Regions from separate parts of the Homo sapiens genome. Here regions 1, 2 and 3 are each reported to be linked to region 4. Evidence: microRNA targets listed by miRTarBase, many of them from high-throughput screens and not tested one by one. Region 4 holds a microRNA gene; each other region holds the end of a gene's coding sequence. Distances are between the middles of the regions.
Evidence for each region. Region 4 holds the annotated microRNA hsa-miR-4742-5p (UCAGGCAAAGGGAUAUUUACAGA, at 1,661-1,683, opposite strand). A microRNA usually pairs through its seed, bases 2 to 8, with sites in the 3' UTR of a target mRNA and lowers its output. Matches are read on the target gene's strand: a 7mer-m8 pairs with bases 2 to 8, a 7mer-A1 pairs with bases 2 to 7 and ends in A, and an 8mer does both.

Region 1 (4,000 bases), not on the chromosome of region 4:
GCAAAGTAATATACACACTGCAAGAACTCGGCAAGTACCTATAGAATGTACGCCTGCATCTATGTTTATAAGGGAAAATTAGGCCTACAGAAGTCTGGAAAGAACAAGGGCATGGGGCAAGGGTGGGGACAGCATCAGGCATGGCCGCTGTGCATCCCGTGGGCGCAGTCTACATGTCGTAGAGCCGGAGCTGCTCCTGCACGTCGCCGTCGGACATCTCGCCAAACGTCTCCTTGTTGTCTTTCATGAGCTTGAAGATGGCAGCCAGCTGTTCCTTCTGAACTCTGTCGAGAAGAAAGGACAAAGAGGAAGAAGGTGCTCCTAGCCCACTGGGGAGAGAGGGAGCCTGTGTGCAGCCGGCGGAGTTGGGACTCTCCTCTCTCTTGTGTGACTGCGGTTGCTTTTCAGAACAAGAAGAAAATGAAAATAAAACCCACTTAGAACATCGGAGCTGGTTGGGTCTGACACACGCAACTTTTGAGGGCTCTAAAAACTGGGATGCGAAATCTCAGGTTTGCCGGGGAGGTTTGGGGACCCCAGGTATCACTTAGGTGCTCTGTGCCTCAGTTTCCCTTTGGGCCTCATTTGATTGTTGACTGCATGTCCCACAGTGATGTAATGAGGAAGAAGATAGGCTCCATGAAGCAGCTTGAGGTAGTGCTATGAAGAAGTAGGTTAGAAACAGCCTTCGTTGAGAGGAATGAGCCGAAAGTGGAGAAAGAAAAAACATTATCAGCTGGGAAATCAGGGAGCATACAAGTGTGTGCAAGACGGTGCTTGGCAAAGGAGCGGGGAGGGAAGCCTGTGGGGTTTCACTGGCCAGAGAAAGGGGGGTGCCTTTTCCTAATTTGCACAAGATACCCTATGGCAGGTGGCGGCCCTGCCCCTTTTATCAAGGGATGGGTGTGGAGGAAGACTGGCCTAAATGTTTGCTCCACGCGGGTTCTGTGCTGGGAGCAATGTCTTGTTATCTTTATGAGGCTCAGCTACACCATCTGACCAGCACAGGACAACTTCTGCAGCACAAACACCTCAGGTGGGGCGAGGCGGCTGCCGAACCCAGGGAGCCATATGTTTGTTGTTTGCTCCACTCTGGTGCCCTGTGCTCCTCAGCCCAGCCGGGCACTGCATCCTGGCTGCATCTCACTCTTCTGGTTTCTGCAGTTCCTGCCCCCCACACACCACGGGCTCAGTGCCTTCAGAGAACGTAAACCACATCACAGTGTCGGACCTCTCAGCCCTGCTCTGCAGCTGGGTCGGCTGTAAGCACGTTACAGGCTCTGCAACCGCAGGACCTCAGCATAGCCCTGGGCCACTGGCATCCCCCACACTGCCTGGAGGGGTGGTCTCCACGTTCGCTCCCATACTTTTGCTACCATATTCCTTTGCTTCACCCTTCCCTCCTCTCCTCAGCCCCGCATCTTCCATCCTGCAAAATTTTCTGTCTAGAGCAGCATCTAGTAGTTGAAATACTGAAGTCCCACTTCCCAGCCTCCCTTGTCCCCTGGGAAAGCTGTGTCTACAGTCGGTTCCCCTGTCTGGTGAAGCAGCAGCCTATGATGTGTGCTTTGTGCCCTCCTGTAAGAAGAAAGAGGGTCAGGTGCAGTGGCTCATGCCTGTAATCCTAGAACTTTAGGAGGCCAAGATGGGAAGATCACTTGAGCCCAGGAGTTCAAGACCAGCCTGAGCAACATAGTCAGACTCTGTCTCTATAAAACAATTAGCCAGGTGTGGTGGTGAGCACCTGTAGTCCCAGCTACCTGGGAGGCTGAGACGGGAGGATCACTTAAGCCCACGAGGTCCAGGCCACAGTGAGCTGTGATTGCACCACTGCACTCCAGCTTGGGCAACAGAGGGAGGCCCTGTCTCAAAAAAAAAAAAAAAAAGAAGAAGAAGAGGAATTCCCGTGAACAGAAAGGATGTGCTGAGCTCTGTGGATGGAAGCACAATCCATATGTCCCTGAGTGAACACAGATCATGTCATGTGGTTTTGACAGCCATGGTGACTGCATATTTTTTAACAGGGTGGATGTATGGCTTTGTACTCTGCTGCAGAGTAAGAGGCATCAAAATGAAAGAAAGGTCAAACTTCAATGGGTTCAAAAGGGATTTTGTTTTAAAACAAAGCAAACTGAAAAAACACACAGTAATTGAGATCATCTACTCAAAGTTTATTGGACTGAACAAAGGCTGAATACAGAGATCCAAGCCATGAGGAGTACATGAGGTGTGGTGCCTATAAGCCAGGGTCGGAAACTTTCCAGACAAACCTAGATAGCTCTACTAGGAGGGAGTCAACGACCTATTGTGTCAATTAGATCCCAGCCTGGACAAGGGCATGACTATTGCTGTTTGGGGACACGTGGCTCTGTGTTGAAGGCAATGACTGTGTGGCTGTTGCCATGTGGCCTGTTCTCCCCTAAGCCCTGAACCAAAGGTTCCAGGCCCAGATGAGAAGGCCCCTGGGAATGCATGCCATAGGGGTTGATGCTGGACATTCCCCAGCCTTCCATTAAATGAAAACATTTTCTATAAACTTACTGCTTTAAAAAAATGTTTTAACCAACAAACCTAAGAACTGCAAATGAGTTTGGTATAGTATAAATATTGTCAAATATAAAATTCCAAGAAACCCATTTGAGACTGATCTGATGATCTGAAGTTCTAACTAATCTATCAAACTTTCTAAGAAAAGGCATAGGTCAAGAAATCTTTTTAAAGCAAACATTATTGCTTCTGCTATAGCAGAGTGGAGATTTGGCTGAGCTGGTAAGAACCTCAGTGAAAAGGTGTCTTAGCAATGAAAGGGCTGAATCCGAGATTCCTCTAGATGAAAAATAAGGGGAATGGTCAAGTAAATTCCTGGTACTGGTTCTTTGCTGCCCTGTAATCAATATGGCATCTCACCCCCGACAACCAAGCCAGCCACAGAGAGAAGTGGGGTTCCCAGGGAAAGGGGTCGGCTGACCACCCTGACGGAGCTGGTGAGCACAGGTGAGCTCTACCTCATTTGTCTCTCATTCCTCAAAGTCTTCTGTGGTTTGGCTTCAGTGAGGGCAAAAGAGGGGAGACTGGAGTGAAAGTGAACTCTGCTTTTAAAATGTTCTTTTTATCTAAGGTGTGCAGGGTGTGTGGATAGCAAGTTTGAGTGGTAAGAAAAATCCCAGTCCAGGGTCTGAGCTCTACCTCTTAAAACTCTTCAGCTTAACAAAGTGACCCACAGGAACAGACATGAACATCTCTACACAGGGCAGGGCCAAAGGTGTTCCCAGGATCCTGCTAGCCAAGGGACAAGTCCTGATTGAGGGTCTAGAGCTCAGCAGATTTATGGAGGCAGCATGCACCCTGGGAGCCTGCCCAGACTCCTCTCTGGGGTTTCCGTTTTATCTCTCAAGCTTTTAAGATGCCAAAAGGAAAAGCCTTTAGGAGGACGCTAAGGATAACTTCGTTATTCTTCAGTTCTGTAAAGAGAAATGGGGAGAAAAAGATAATTTATTTTACTCATTCCATCCTGCACCATGGGCAAGGAAAGGGGGAAATGGGGACGAGGAAGGAGAATGTTTGGAATTGCAGAAGCTGCGCTAGACTCTGGTTTCTCAAACCACTGCTGATTTGCTTCTCATCGCTTGCAGCAAGACAGTCTGTGCCGCCAAGCCGGCCAGAGCTTGCAGAGCTCCCCTTGATCCCGCACAGAACCTGGCAGCCCACAGACCCTGTTCAGCCTCTGCAGGGTACTTAAGGAAGGAACTTGGGCATTTGAGTTGCCAAGGGCCTTTCTGATCTTGGGTTGTGTGGTTGTGCTGACAATATTCCTATCACCCTAGATAATTTCCCATTCCCGCTGGCTGAGTTTTGTCCCCTCGGGGGATACTGGCACCCTAGGATGCACGCTTCCAGATGGAGCCAACTGCATGCCCGTCTTTTATGAACCAAGACACACTGCCAGCCCTGGGACCACTGAGAACCCAGCAGGTCTGATCTTGTCCCTCTGACGCCCTCT
Region 2 (4,000 bases), 64 Mb from region 4:
TTTAAAAAGGAACCCTTTTCCTCCAGACAGATACAGCCCCAAACCAGGGTGCATGGCTTGGGGAGCAGAGTATAGGATGGATTGCAGTCCCCAGTCACCTCTTCTGCCAGCCTCCCCACATATGGCACAACTGTCTAATGACACGGTAGGCCAAGCTGAAGTGAAGGAGAAAGGAGCCGGACCAAGATGGGCACATGAGGAGGGTGCCCTCCTAGCTCCACCCTCACCAGGATGAAGGCGTGCAAGGGGCTCAGCAAGGTGTGAATGACCTTAGTCCGCAAGTTCAGGGAAGCAGGCAGAGCGGGGAGGTGCCTGAGCTGGGGCCTGGAGAGGGGCCTGGGAAAGGAAAACCAGGGATAGCTATTTTCTTACAGTGGAGTGAGATCTTACAGGTATCAGGCACAGGCAGGAAGAGAGAGAGAGAGGTTCTGGGGAGGAAGGGCCAGGAGAGAGATCTAGAAAGTGGGTTCACTAGAGCTGGGAAACAGGGAGCCCCTAGGAAAGCAGTGTGTCCTTGGGGCACAGTCATTCACATCACTGATTGGGTGCCATGTGGAGTGGACATTCAAAAACCTGGTTCCTGTCCTCAAAATAAGGGGCACCTGGGAAAACAGAGGAATCTACCTGTGGTGACTGAACGAGGGATAATTCAAACTGACAACCTGTGCAGTCCCGTGGAGGGTAGGGGAGTGTGGGTGATCAGAAGGCTGGGGCCAGTGTAAGGCATAGGGAATATGTAAGTCAGGAGTTAGAAATCTCCAGTGTGCGTTGGAATCACCTGGAGGGCTTGGTAAAACACAGATTTTTGGGCTCCACTCCAAGGGTTTCTGACCCAAGAGGTGGGGACCAAAACCATGCATTCCTAAGAAGTCCCCAGGTCATGCTGCTGTTGCTGGACTGAGGACCACACTTTGAGAACCTGTGCTCTAAGTGAATACTTGGAAGTCGTTTCAGGACATGGGGCATAGAAACTGAGGAGTAGCTGAGAGGAAGATGAAGAGAAGCTGAGAAGAAGCTGAGGATCCTCACAGGAGCAGACAGAGAAATGTGAAGGGTGGGGTTTTATGTGTGGGAAAGGGACCCGAAGCCCAGGCTGAAGAGTTTAACTTTGGGCCCAGAAACTCAACCATCAATGGAAACAGGGCAGTGACAAGTGGAGGGGGTGTCTGGAAGCTGAGCAGGCCCGACAGAGAGATGAAGCCATCAGAAGGACTTGAGGGGGCTCCTGGGGAGGTCGGGGGGAGGTGGAGCAGGAAGAGTTTTAGGGGCAAAGGACAGAACCCCTTGTAGGACTGGAGGCAAGATTGAATGTGGGAGAAAATCGGAGAGAAGCGATAGGAGTTAGAACATCTGGATGTGTCTGCAGCCTGCTGTCAGCCCAATTGGGCCAGGGGGTCCCAAAGACGCATATTCTCACCCCACCTCCACCTGCTTCCTGATCACATCCCAGTCACCAGCGGCAGCTTCCTGGATAGTGAGGGAGAACAACTGCAAGTTGAGAGAGGCAGAGGGGTGGAAGGGACCTGAAGCTGGCCTGGAGAAAAGCATAGGCCCAGGAGAGCCTGCCCTGGGACAGCGCCTGTCTCCCACACAGCAGCACTGGCCCAGCAAGGACCTCCTCCCTTGGCCCTGGCCACATCCCACTCCTGCCCTTTCATAAGCCCCCTGGGGAAAGCACTCCAGTCTTCTCTGTTCCAGGCTGGGCAGATAGGGTCCTATGGGGCACAGCCAGGGTCCTATGGGCATAGCCAGGGCCCTATGGGTCCTCTGGAAGCAAGAAAGGGGGCCATGGAAGCAGCCCAGACAGCTGGGGTTCACTCAGAGAGGACCCAAGTCCCAGTCCCTTCCTTTCAGTCAAAACACGGATATCTTTGCCTCAGGTCACAGGGCCACTGGGGCCCTGTCATCAAAGATGAGATTCCTGAAGCCTGGCATTGACTGGTCCCCTAAGAACAGATGTTGGGATGGAGAATGGGGATTCATTTGGGTTTCAGTAAAACAGGGGGGTCTGGACAAGAGCGGGTGGGCTACTTGGTATCCACACACACGCACTCACACAGGAGCCAACCCATTGCAGCTGAACAAGCAGAGAAACTCAGTCTGGAAAGGCCCCTCCTGCCTGCTGAAGTCACTGAGACCCTGCCACACCTCTCCTCGCCACTGTCACCACTCAGGGCACCACTGTACAGTGCAACAAGTCAGGAGACCTAGGTCCTACTCCTGACACTTGCTAATTAGCTCTATGACTCTGGGCAAATCGCATATCTGGGCCTCAGTTTCCTCATCTGTAAAAATGACAGCAAACTCGTAATGCTCAATAAATGTTTAAATAACAACTGAAGGAGGCCTGCCAGATGCCTCTTAAGGTGCCGTGCAGGTAAGAATTTTAGGATCAGAGAATCCTTAGGCAAGAAAATTCATGAAACTCCTGGGGCACTGGAGGAGGGGTGAAGCTGAAGGGTGGGAGGGAGGAGACCCCAGGGTAGGTACAGGCAGGTGAAGCGGGTATATGCAGGTGTAGTGGGTATATGCGGGTAGAGGGTATATGCAGGTACAGCGAGTACATGTGGGTGCAATGGCTCTGTGGACACACAGGCCCTCCCCTGACTGCCTGTTGTCCCAGCCTGAGTATCAGTTGTGTTCTGAGGCTTCTATTCTGCTGCTATGGGTCAGAAGGAACAACAATTTCAGCCCCAGGGCCTAGTGGGAGGAGTCAGGTCCAAGACTAGCCTGACCAGGAGAATGAGACGTGGGAAGAGTTGGGGAAAGTCTGGGAAGCTCAGAAAAGGCACTGCCCCTGGAGGCCCATGCCCTTTAACATGGGAGAAGCTGGTGCGGGGGTGACCACAGGCAGCTGGAACCTACCCTCCTTTTCTATGCTTCCCTCCCCAAGTAGGAGTCCAATCAGGAGTTGTCTCAGCCCCGACAGTTCAGGCTGCAGATGGAACCCAGGTGTCCCCTCCTGGGGTGGGTGGCATGGCCCATGGAGGCCAGATGGTGTTTGTGGTGGGAAGAGAGGCCTGGGTCATCCAGAATAGGTTGTCAATCCCCAACCACCTCCCTACTATGCACCCTGAGCGTTTTACAGTCTCATGGTAGGGAAGACACAGCCAAGCCTGCTTTTTATAAAACAAGTTTATTCACATTTTAGAAAAACTAATTCCAGGACAGGAAATGGCCTCCCTATAGGATCCCTAAGAGATCAAGAACAGAAGGCCAGAGGGAGGGGCTTGGGAGGGAAGGAGTGGGGAAGGGGAGGCACGTCTCCCATTCTGGGTAGTGGGAGGTCAAATAAATTAAAGGAAGAGTGGACAGAGGGAGAGGGTGTCCAGGCAACCAGAGGAGGGCTTGGAGCTGGGCCGGAAGACAGTCGACACCTGCAAGACCTGAAAAGGGTGCCCGGTGTGGGCTAAGGACAGAGAGCCCTGAGTGGGGCTCCCTCGCGGCCTCCACCCCTTAACAGGGCCCTGTGGATCTGAGCTGCCTACTCCTCCTCCAGGTGGGGCCTGGGAGGGAGCAGCTTGGTTCAGGACTTGGGGGTGGGAAGCCCAATGAAAACAAGGTTGGGGGGTTCTTTTCCCTCACCTGGGGAGTAAGGGATCACCGTTTTCGAAGCCTCTTCATGAAGCAGCAAGTGATGGTACCAAGGACAGTGGCACCAGTGACTAGGGCCACCCCTGTACCCACCAGCAGAGGCACAAATAGGGTGTCCAGGGCTGGGGGAGAGAGGATGACTGTTCAGAGAGGATGCCATCATCCTCCACCCATACACTTGCCTCTGCGCTTTCCCCATCAAGTTCTCTGAACCCACCTTCTCCATTCACAGACACCCCCATCCCTGCCCACAGCCTGCCCCCTCAGCATGCAAGTCAGCATCAACCACAGAGGACCCCGTGCAGGTGGGCACTGCAGGGCTGGAAGTTGGATTTTTTGAGACTTCATGTGACATAATGTGGAGGAGAGAGATAGTAGCAGGAGGGTCAGAAGATGGGAAGGGAAG
Region 3 (4,000 bases), not on the chromosome of region 4:
GACACGAGCATTCCAGGCAGAAGGAAGAAGAGCAGGACTTGAGGCCTGAGCAGGGACTTGGGGGCGGTAGGGGCAGAGGCAGGGCTTGAAAGTTGTGGGGTTTGATCCCGAGAACAGTGGAGATCACTGGAGGGGTGTGGCATGATGCAGTTTTCAGTCTCAGACATGTACCTGCTTGGTTGGAGGAGGCCTGGAGGGGTCAAAGTTAGAACCAGAGCCTCCTGTGAGGAGGCTCCCACAGTTGTCTGAGACAGTGGTGGCCTGGACCTTGGGCAGTGACAGAGAAGGGAGAGAAGTGGGCATATTTGTAGTATCTGAGGGAAATATACATCTAAGACAATTGGGAACATGGGGTAGAGGCAGGGTGGGCGTAGGAAATCTGGGCATCATCTGTGCACAATAGATGAGGGAGGGGAGAGTGATTAAGACAGGACAGAAGCCTGACATCCAGGGCGGGGTGGGAGGTCAGGGAGAGGACTCTGGGCTCCATCCCAGGAGCTGAGAGAAGGGTGGAAAGGTGAGCCCCCCAATCACTTTCTGGCCCCCAGTTGATCCCTACCCTGCTCTATTCCAGGACATAGACATCAACACAGATGATGAGCTGGACGCCTACATTGAGGACCTCATCACCAAGGGGGACTGAAGGCAGGAGAGAGAGCAGCTCCCCTGCCCACCTGCCCCTCAACCCTGTAGCTGCAGGGGGAGGGGACTTCATTCATGGGTTGGTGGTCGCACCTTGGTTTGACTTACACGGGACATTTGTGTTTTTGGAGGAAAAGATACCCTGATTCTTTGAATCTTCCTTAAGTTTATAAATATTTATTTTTTAAAAGAAGATGCTGTGCCTGTGAGACCATACTTTTTTTTTTTTTTTTTTTTTTTTTTTTTTTTTTTTGGTGACTGCAAAGGACAGAGAACCTTTCCACTTTGGCCATACTGGGTTGCTAAGCCGGAGCCATTTCAGCTCCTGGCTCCTCAAGATAACGGCGAGTCCAGTGCCATCTTGGAGAAGCTCCAGGGGCAGGGCTGACTTTTCTCCTACAGGAGGAACAATGTGGGGATCTGAGGGATGGGAGGGAGACTTCCCCCTAGAGTGGTGGTCCTGCTGGGGGCTCATATCCAGGGACCCAAAAGGGGGGCTGTGTAGGAGGTTCCACATTGGAGGGGCTCTCTCTCTCGCAGCTGTCAGAGTTGGTCCTGGCTGTGGCGTCCAAACAGCTTGAGGGAAAAAGATCCTGTCTAACCACCTCATCTACTACTCAAGTTCTTTCTGAAGGAGGGATTTCTTCAGTTAACCATGGACAGTGAGGTTTCTCACCACAGTAACTTGAGTCCAGGTTGAGGGGGAGACAGATCTGTGGTAAATCTCTGACTTGGGCAGCACACTGAGTGTGGAACCCCACAGGACTCCTTAGGGAAGGAGCTTGTGTGTGAAAGAACCCCTGGGGCTGAGCTGGTGACCTCCATGTGTGGGTGCAGCAGGGCCTTGGATGGTGCCAATTGATCTGGACAGCCTGTTGATGCTTTTCTACTTCCACCCTTCGGCCTGGCCCCACTGAGCCCCATCAAGGTGCCTGAAGAGGGGGCCAGTGAGATCCCGTGGCCACAGGGACTCCAGAGGCATCTCTGCAGGAAGCACACCATGCCTTCCCTCCATGTTCCATCACGGCGCCACAATCTGTGTCCCTTAACTTCTCAGGGTCAAAGACAAAGGCAAGCGTTGCTGAATTTTCTCTTTAATGGCCATTGGAAGAGTCTGGTTCAGTTTTTCCCAACTCTCTTCCCACTCGTATTTGGGGCCTCTGGGTTTTCTGAAGGCACAAGGACTGTGACTTTGTACCACTAACCTGTGGTTCAAACCTGGGTGTGTTTCTGGCATCTCCCTAACCCAGATCAGCAATGGCCACCCTGCTCCTCTGAGGTCAGCAGAAGACTGGGAAGCAGAGGTGAGGGATGCAGGCCACACTGGAATGGGAAGTCTTTTCCCCACTGGATGTGCCTGTCTGGTGGGTTTTGGACCTTCCCAGACTACATCTCTAGGAGAGGCCTGTTTGGAGTAGTACACTGAGAGACCCTGGCCTCTTCTGCTGGAAGACTGTCCAAGTCTTGGGGTTTCTTGAGCTGGTGATTCCTCTGCCATCCTGCTCTCTCTCTTCATCTCAGGCAGCATGGGGTCCACTTTTGTCCCCAAACCTAATGTTTTAATCCAAATGCAAATTGGTTCCACATTTTTACTGGAGGGTAATCAGTTTTTAAAATTCACACACATGTAATCGAAACGCAATACTATAAAGTTCTACTGGTGAGACTCCTGAACTCAGTCTGTTTTCTTAGTAAAATCCAGCACCTTCCTTCTCTTCATTCTTTGTATCACTGTGGCTTTAAACTGTCTTCAAGTTATTCCTCCTCATCACCTCCATTGTTTTATCTTCACCCCCTTAACATCCACAGAAACAGACTGGAGTTCTTGAATGTTTTAGCTTCAACTTCTACATGTGCCCACTTTGCTTTGTTAATGCTACCACAGCTGTGCTGAATGAAGCCTGTTTCCCAGGCAGAGATCCTGCCACTCTGGATGGGAAGATAAAATGCAGGGGTCCTCTTTCCTGGTTTCCTGGGAACATCAAGGGACAGGTGACCAGCTTGGAACTCTTTGATGACTTGGAAGGAGGAAGATGGTCTGGCTGATCTGTGGTGAGAAGGTCCTTTGCACAAGGCTGCAAGAAAGTGAAGGGCAGCAATGCTGGTGTTTAAAGAACGAGAGGGGTGGGGACTCTAGGGTGTTTTGTTTGAGATGGGGGTCTCGCCCTGGTCACCTAGGCTGGAGTGCAGTGGCACGATCTTGGCTCACTGATACATCTGCCTTCCAGGCTCAAGTGATCTCCCACCTTAGCCTCCCAGGTAGCTGGAACCACAGGCACACACCATCATGCCTGGCGAATTTTTTTTGTATTTTTGGTAGAGTTTCGTCATGTTGCTTAGGATGGTCTCAAACTCCTGAGCTCAAGTGATCCACCTGCCTCGGCCTCCCAGAGTGCTGGGATTACAGTGTGAGCCACCATGCCTCACCTAGGGTGTTTGGTTTTTAAGTGAAACATGCACATGGTAAACATTAAAACCGTCTAAAAGGCTGGACCATGAAAAGCAAGGCTCCCTTCTCCCACCCAATCCCTGAATTCTCCCTGGAGAGTATCCCTCCTAAGTGCACGCACTTCCACTCTGTTCCATTTCTGCCTGTTAAAACTACTTAGTGCAGCTTAGTGTAGTGGAACCTGCTTCAGAATAACCCATATGGGTCTTCTTTATTCTCATGAACCACAGAGCATTTCATGTGTTGGATATATTGTCTCCTACTTACGGACATTTGGGGTTGTTTCTGTTTTTGTTTGTTTTGTGACGGACTCTTGCTCTGTCACCCAGGCTGGAGTGCAGTGGCACAGTCTCGGCTCATTGCAACCTTCACCTCCTGGGTTCCAGCGATTCTCCCCTCTCAGCCTCCCAAGTAGCTGGGACTACAGGTGCGTGCCACCATGCCCAGCTAATTTTTGTATTTTTTGGTAAAGACAGGGTTTCACCATGTTGGCCAGGCTGGTCTCAAACTCCTGATCTCAAGTGATTTGCCCGCCTTGGCTGGGATTACAGGCATGAGCCACTGCACCCGGCCAGTCACCATTTTCATCCGGTAACTTGCAATGCACCAGGCCTTACCAGGGCCACTGTTGGGTTCAGCGGACATTTCCTTCTTCAAGCTGGCAAGGCCTCAGACAAGTCACTGCCCATTTTGGCTCCTGTTCCTCCTCTAAAATAACGGAGTTGGGTGATGGCAGAGGCTTTCCAGCTTATTCAGCCTCAGGAGTACCTAAAATTTATCCAGAAGCCCATATGGAAAGCCAGGAGTCCTGGAGCTGCTCTGGTTGAAGCTAGGATGGGGGCCCAGAGCTCCCTGCTGTTCTTGACCCCCAAATCTTTGCTTCCAAGATTCACTGGCCCCTACCTGCTA
Region 4 (4,000 bases):
TCTCATCTGACGCTGATTTTCGGTAGAAAGAAAGAATTGATGAATTCAGGCTGGGCGCGGTGGCTCATGCCTGTAATCCCAGCACTTCAGGAGGCTGAGGCAGGTAGACTGCTTGAGCTCAGGAATTCAAGACCAGCCTGGGTAACGCGGTGAAACCCCATCTCTACAAAAATTTGTTGGGGCTACTTGAGGGGCTGAGGAGGGAAGGACTGCTTGAGCCCAGGAGGTGGAGGTTGCATCAAGATCGTGCCATTGCACTCAAAAAAAGAAAAGAAAAGAAAAGAAAAGAAAAGGAATAGATGAATTTATATGCTTGATGTTAAAATCTAAATCTCTAAATGTCTCTCTTTGTCCCAATCCTTAAATATGCCTTATTCTTAAAGGTAAACCTCATGTGCACTTTATGATCCTCTTATCTACCAAGATCAGTTTTTTGTCAAGATAGGGATAGTAAACATCTTATACAATAAATGGAACATAACATAATCTAATTCCTTGGTCTATCTTATAAAACCAGATTCAGTATATATTTTTTTACTTTTTGTAGAGACAGTGTCTAGCCATGTTGCCCAGGTTGGTCTGGAACTCGTGGCCTCAAGCAGTACTCCCATCTAGGCCTCCCAGAGTGTTGAGATTACAGGTGTAAGCCATCATGCCCGGCCAAAAAAAGTGACTTAAATAATTTGCTTTTATAGTACCTAGAAATGTACAGTGGGTATTGAAGAAAAATGTGTTGAATAAAAACTTGCAATAATTTGCCACTAGTTAAGTTCCTATCGCCTTAAAAAGTACACTAATTTTTATTACTGCCTCACTTATTTGTGCTTGCATCTTCTAAACAATTCACACTTTAGAGTGACTTTAGGCATATTCCTGTCTGGAATACTGACACTTTTAGATTAGAGAACAAGTTTATTCAAAAGGGTAGTAGTAGGAAGAATAATTTCAGCTTTCCTAAAATCTTAAGAATTATCAAACTCAATTATAACTCTGGTGACCGCTGAAGAAATACTGAAGAACTAACTATAGTCAAATCTGTCCAAGTTCAGGTAGAGCATCATAATTAACCTTGATTTTTCAGATACTACCAACCCTTAAAAACCATCAGTCCCATGAAAATACAAGTCAACATATGAAAGTATAATAATTTAACTAAATCTTGATTAGACACATGCACCAAACACACTGCTACGTGGTCAGAATAAGCACTGCTAATCCGTGACAATACATGACAATATGGAGGGCTTAGGTCATTACAGAAAAGGAGAAAGTAATACATGACAGCATGTGACAATTTGTGATAATACAGGGGCTTAGGTCATTACAGAGAGAAATTAACCGTGTATTGGATAAATGAAAGAATTTTAACTTACTACCCTGAATTTTCTTGGAGACATGACTGCCTTCATAAATTGAGATTTACAGACTTTAATATCAACATATGTAAACTGATAAGGACACAATTTACCTTCACTGCCACTAGCGATGAAGTCTTCATTATGGCCTCCAAAACATGAATGAATTGTATAAAACCCTTGTGTAACACCTTGATACTTTCTTACTAAAACTCTGTCTTGCAAGTCCCATAAATGAACTCCCTGCAGGCAAAGGAGAATACAGATATTTAATCTGCCTCAACTCAAACAAATTTTAAAAAGTATCTGTAAATATCCCTTTGCCTGATGAAATATCTTCATTTTCTATTATGCAAAATACCAACATTCTGACAAATTTATGGTTGATTATACACATTTAAGGATCAATCACATGCAATCAAATTTAAGGGTAAGTAGAAAATTTTGTTAATATAAATACACTGAAAATAACAGTTAAAATAAAACTTGTACTAAGCCAAATTTTTCAGAAAATTATACTAATAAACATACCTGAGTTGCTACATTTAACAAAGCTAATCGGCCATTTTTTGAAATAGTAAAAGACATAATAGGATGATCTTCTTGTACTCTGGAACCAGAAAATAATTTGTCAAAAACAACATATTAACAGTCAAGACATTCAAATTATCAATACATAAGATGTGCTAGCTTAAGTATGACAATTTTGCCTGCAATCACTATTACATACTATACTTCAATTGAGAAGAATCTGAGTTACTGATTACTAAGTACCATGTGACCTTCAATCCAAATTACCACGCAAACCAAAACGAAAAACATAAAAACTGTGAAAAGGCAAGTTCCACTACACATTTGAATATAAATCAGGTAATTGTTGTTTAATGGAAACAAAAAATAGTTACATGTTCCTATCTGTAAGGTCCTCGAAGTTATAGCCCCGAATTCGCTGGTGTGTATCTGATGCCAGAACAGTCTTTCCATCACTCAAGCACCAAAGGCATTGCACTCTTACCCCTTCCCAGGAGTCAAGGAGATTACCATCTAAGTCCTGAGTAAGAAAAAACTACTATTAACTTCATTACTCAACAGCACTCAGAAAGCAAATAAAGAACCAAAAGACTCCCTTCACAATATCTTTTAGTAACAGGTTTTTTTTTTTTCCTGAGACTGATCTCAACCTAATTGTTCTAGAAGTGTTTTTAACCATGAAAATTTGAATATAGTTCAAATTTCATTACAACCATACTTAAGGGAAAGCAGAGAGACACTTTGTAGCTCTATCTTCCCTTCAATAACTCACCATGCATAAATAACACAAAGAAAGAAACAGTCCCTAAGTTCCAAGTAAGGTCTTACTTTTATTCAAAAACAATTTAAACGTTCCTTTAAAATTCACTATACTGGAATTTGTCCTAATATTTAGGAGTTGTGAAATGGAAAAAGATTCTAAAACATTTTACAGCTTCATACAGACTGGAGGAATCTGTTAATGACATTTTTCAAAAATTTACCAAATTTGTAATGTGCTCTACAGATCAAAGCTCTTATAGTCATTATCTCATTGAATATCCAAAGTTCTGAGAGGAACAACCCTTCCCATTTTATAAGTTAGATAATCCTGTATCTTGATGGCTTAACACAGTATAGGACAGCAAACTCAGCAGAAACATACATGATCATCTTGCACGCAGGGAATTAAGAACAATTCATAACCATATTGAGATAATATAACACCAAAATCCATGTGTTCCAAACGAGCTTAATAAAAGAAACTGATAACCTGTTTTAGCTAAATTAAATGATTTATTATCTTGTTTTAGTTTAAAAAATTGATCTGGGGTCGGGTGTGGTAGCTCATGCCTATAATCCCAGCACGTTGGGAGGCCAAGGCGGGAGGATCATTTGAGCCCAGAAGTTTGAAGCTGCAGTGAGCCATGATCACACCAATGTACTCTAGCATGGGTGGCAGAGAGCAAGACCCTGTCTCTTAAAAAACAACAAAAAAAATGTGGACGTGCATACTGGGACCATGTGAGTCTGTAATATGAGACACAGAATCTAGACTACACTGCAAGTAACAGAGAAAGTTTTATGGCAAGGTAAACAATGATTTATGATATAAATGATACTTATGATATAAAGTTTACCTTGCCATAAAACTTATTTTTATCATTCCAACAATTCAAAATAATTAGGGCAGCTACTTATTAGAAGCTGACACAAAGATTGAAAAGTACTCTGGTAGCACCTGTCACCACTTTTATTATTCAAATATTAAAGGGAGTCTACTCATAAAATTCAGTGTTTTTTTTTTTTGGTTACAAAAATCTCAAAAGAAATTTAAAAAATCTTTTCAATTCTTATAAATTAGAAACTTGCTCATAAAAACAAAAATGTTTAGCAAAACACATTTTTTTGTTCTACTAAATCCAAAGTCTATACTTTGTACAAACATTTGAAATGTTTAAAAGAAAGGAAAAAAATGACCCAGAAAATTCTATTGGACAGCGCTTGTCTACGACGACAGCAAAGTAGGTGTTCATAGAGTATATTTTGTTTTATTTATGTATTTTTTTGAGACAGAGTTTCACTCTTGTTGCCCAGGCTGGAGTGCAATGGCGCGATCTTGGCCCACTGCAATC

Region 1: the mRNA of MXRA7 is a reported target of hsa-miR-4742-5p. The part of its 3' UTR that is shown has no 7-base or 8-base seed match.
Region 2: miRTarBase lists IGSF8 as a target of hsa-miR-4742-5p. Seed matches in the 3' UTR shown: 7mer-m8 at 3,330-3,336.
Region 3: miRTarBase lists MORC2 as a target of hsa-miR-4742-5p. Seed matches in the 3' UTR shown: 7mer-A1 at 1,572-1,578.

The regions. Positions count from the first base shown.
Region 1 is chr17:76,677,419-76,681,418 of GRCh38, forward strand. MXRA7 (matrix remodeling associated 7) reads right to left here. Exons shown (of 4, transcript NM_198530.4): 4 at 2,148-3,461. The coding sequence ends at 3,449. Among named protein-coding and RNA genes, the nearest start is that of MXRA7, 32 kb to the right of the region's middle.
Region 2 is chr1:160,088,223-160,092,222 of GRCh38, forward strand. IGSF8 (immunoglobulin superfamily member 8) reads right to left here. Exons shown (of 7, transcript NM_052868.6): 6 at 3,586-3,716; 7 at 3,121-3,386. The coding sequence ends at 3,601. It overlaps KCNJ9 (potassium inwardly rectifying channel subfamily J member 9), which reads left to right. Exons shown (of 3, transcript NM_004983.3): 3 at 1-2,341. Among named protein-coding and RNA genes, the nearest start is that of IGSF8, 8.4 kb to the right of the region's middle.
Region 3 is chr22:30,923,446-30,927,445 of GRCh38, reverse strand. MORC2 (MORC family CW-type zinc finger 2) reads left to right here. Exons shown (of 26, transcript NM_001303256.3): 26 at 575-2,316. The coding sequence ends at 643. It overlaps MORC2-AS1 (MORC2 antisense RNA 1), which reads right to left. Exons shown (of 2, transcript NR_026920.1): 2 at 792-2,717. Among named protein-coding and RNA genes, the nearest start is that of MORC2-AS1, 3.1 kb to the right of the region's middle.
Region 4 is chr1:224,396,629-224,400,628 of GRCh38, forward strand. It overlaps MIR4742 (microRNA 4742), which reads right to left and starts at 1,683; the gene lies at 1,599-1,683. WDR26 (WD repeat domain 26) reads right to left here. Exons shown (of 14, transcript NM_001379403.1): 10 at 2,261-2,406; 11 at 1,887-1,965; 12 at 1,469-1,598.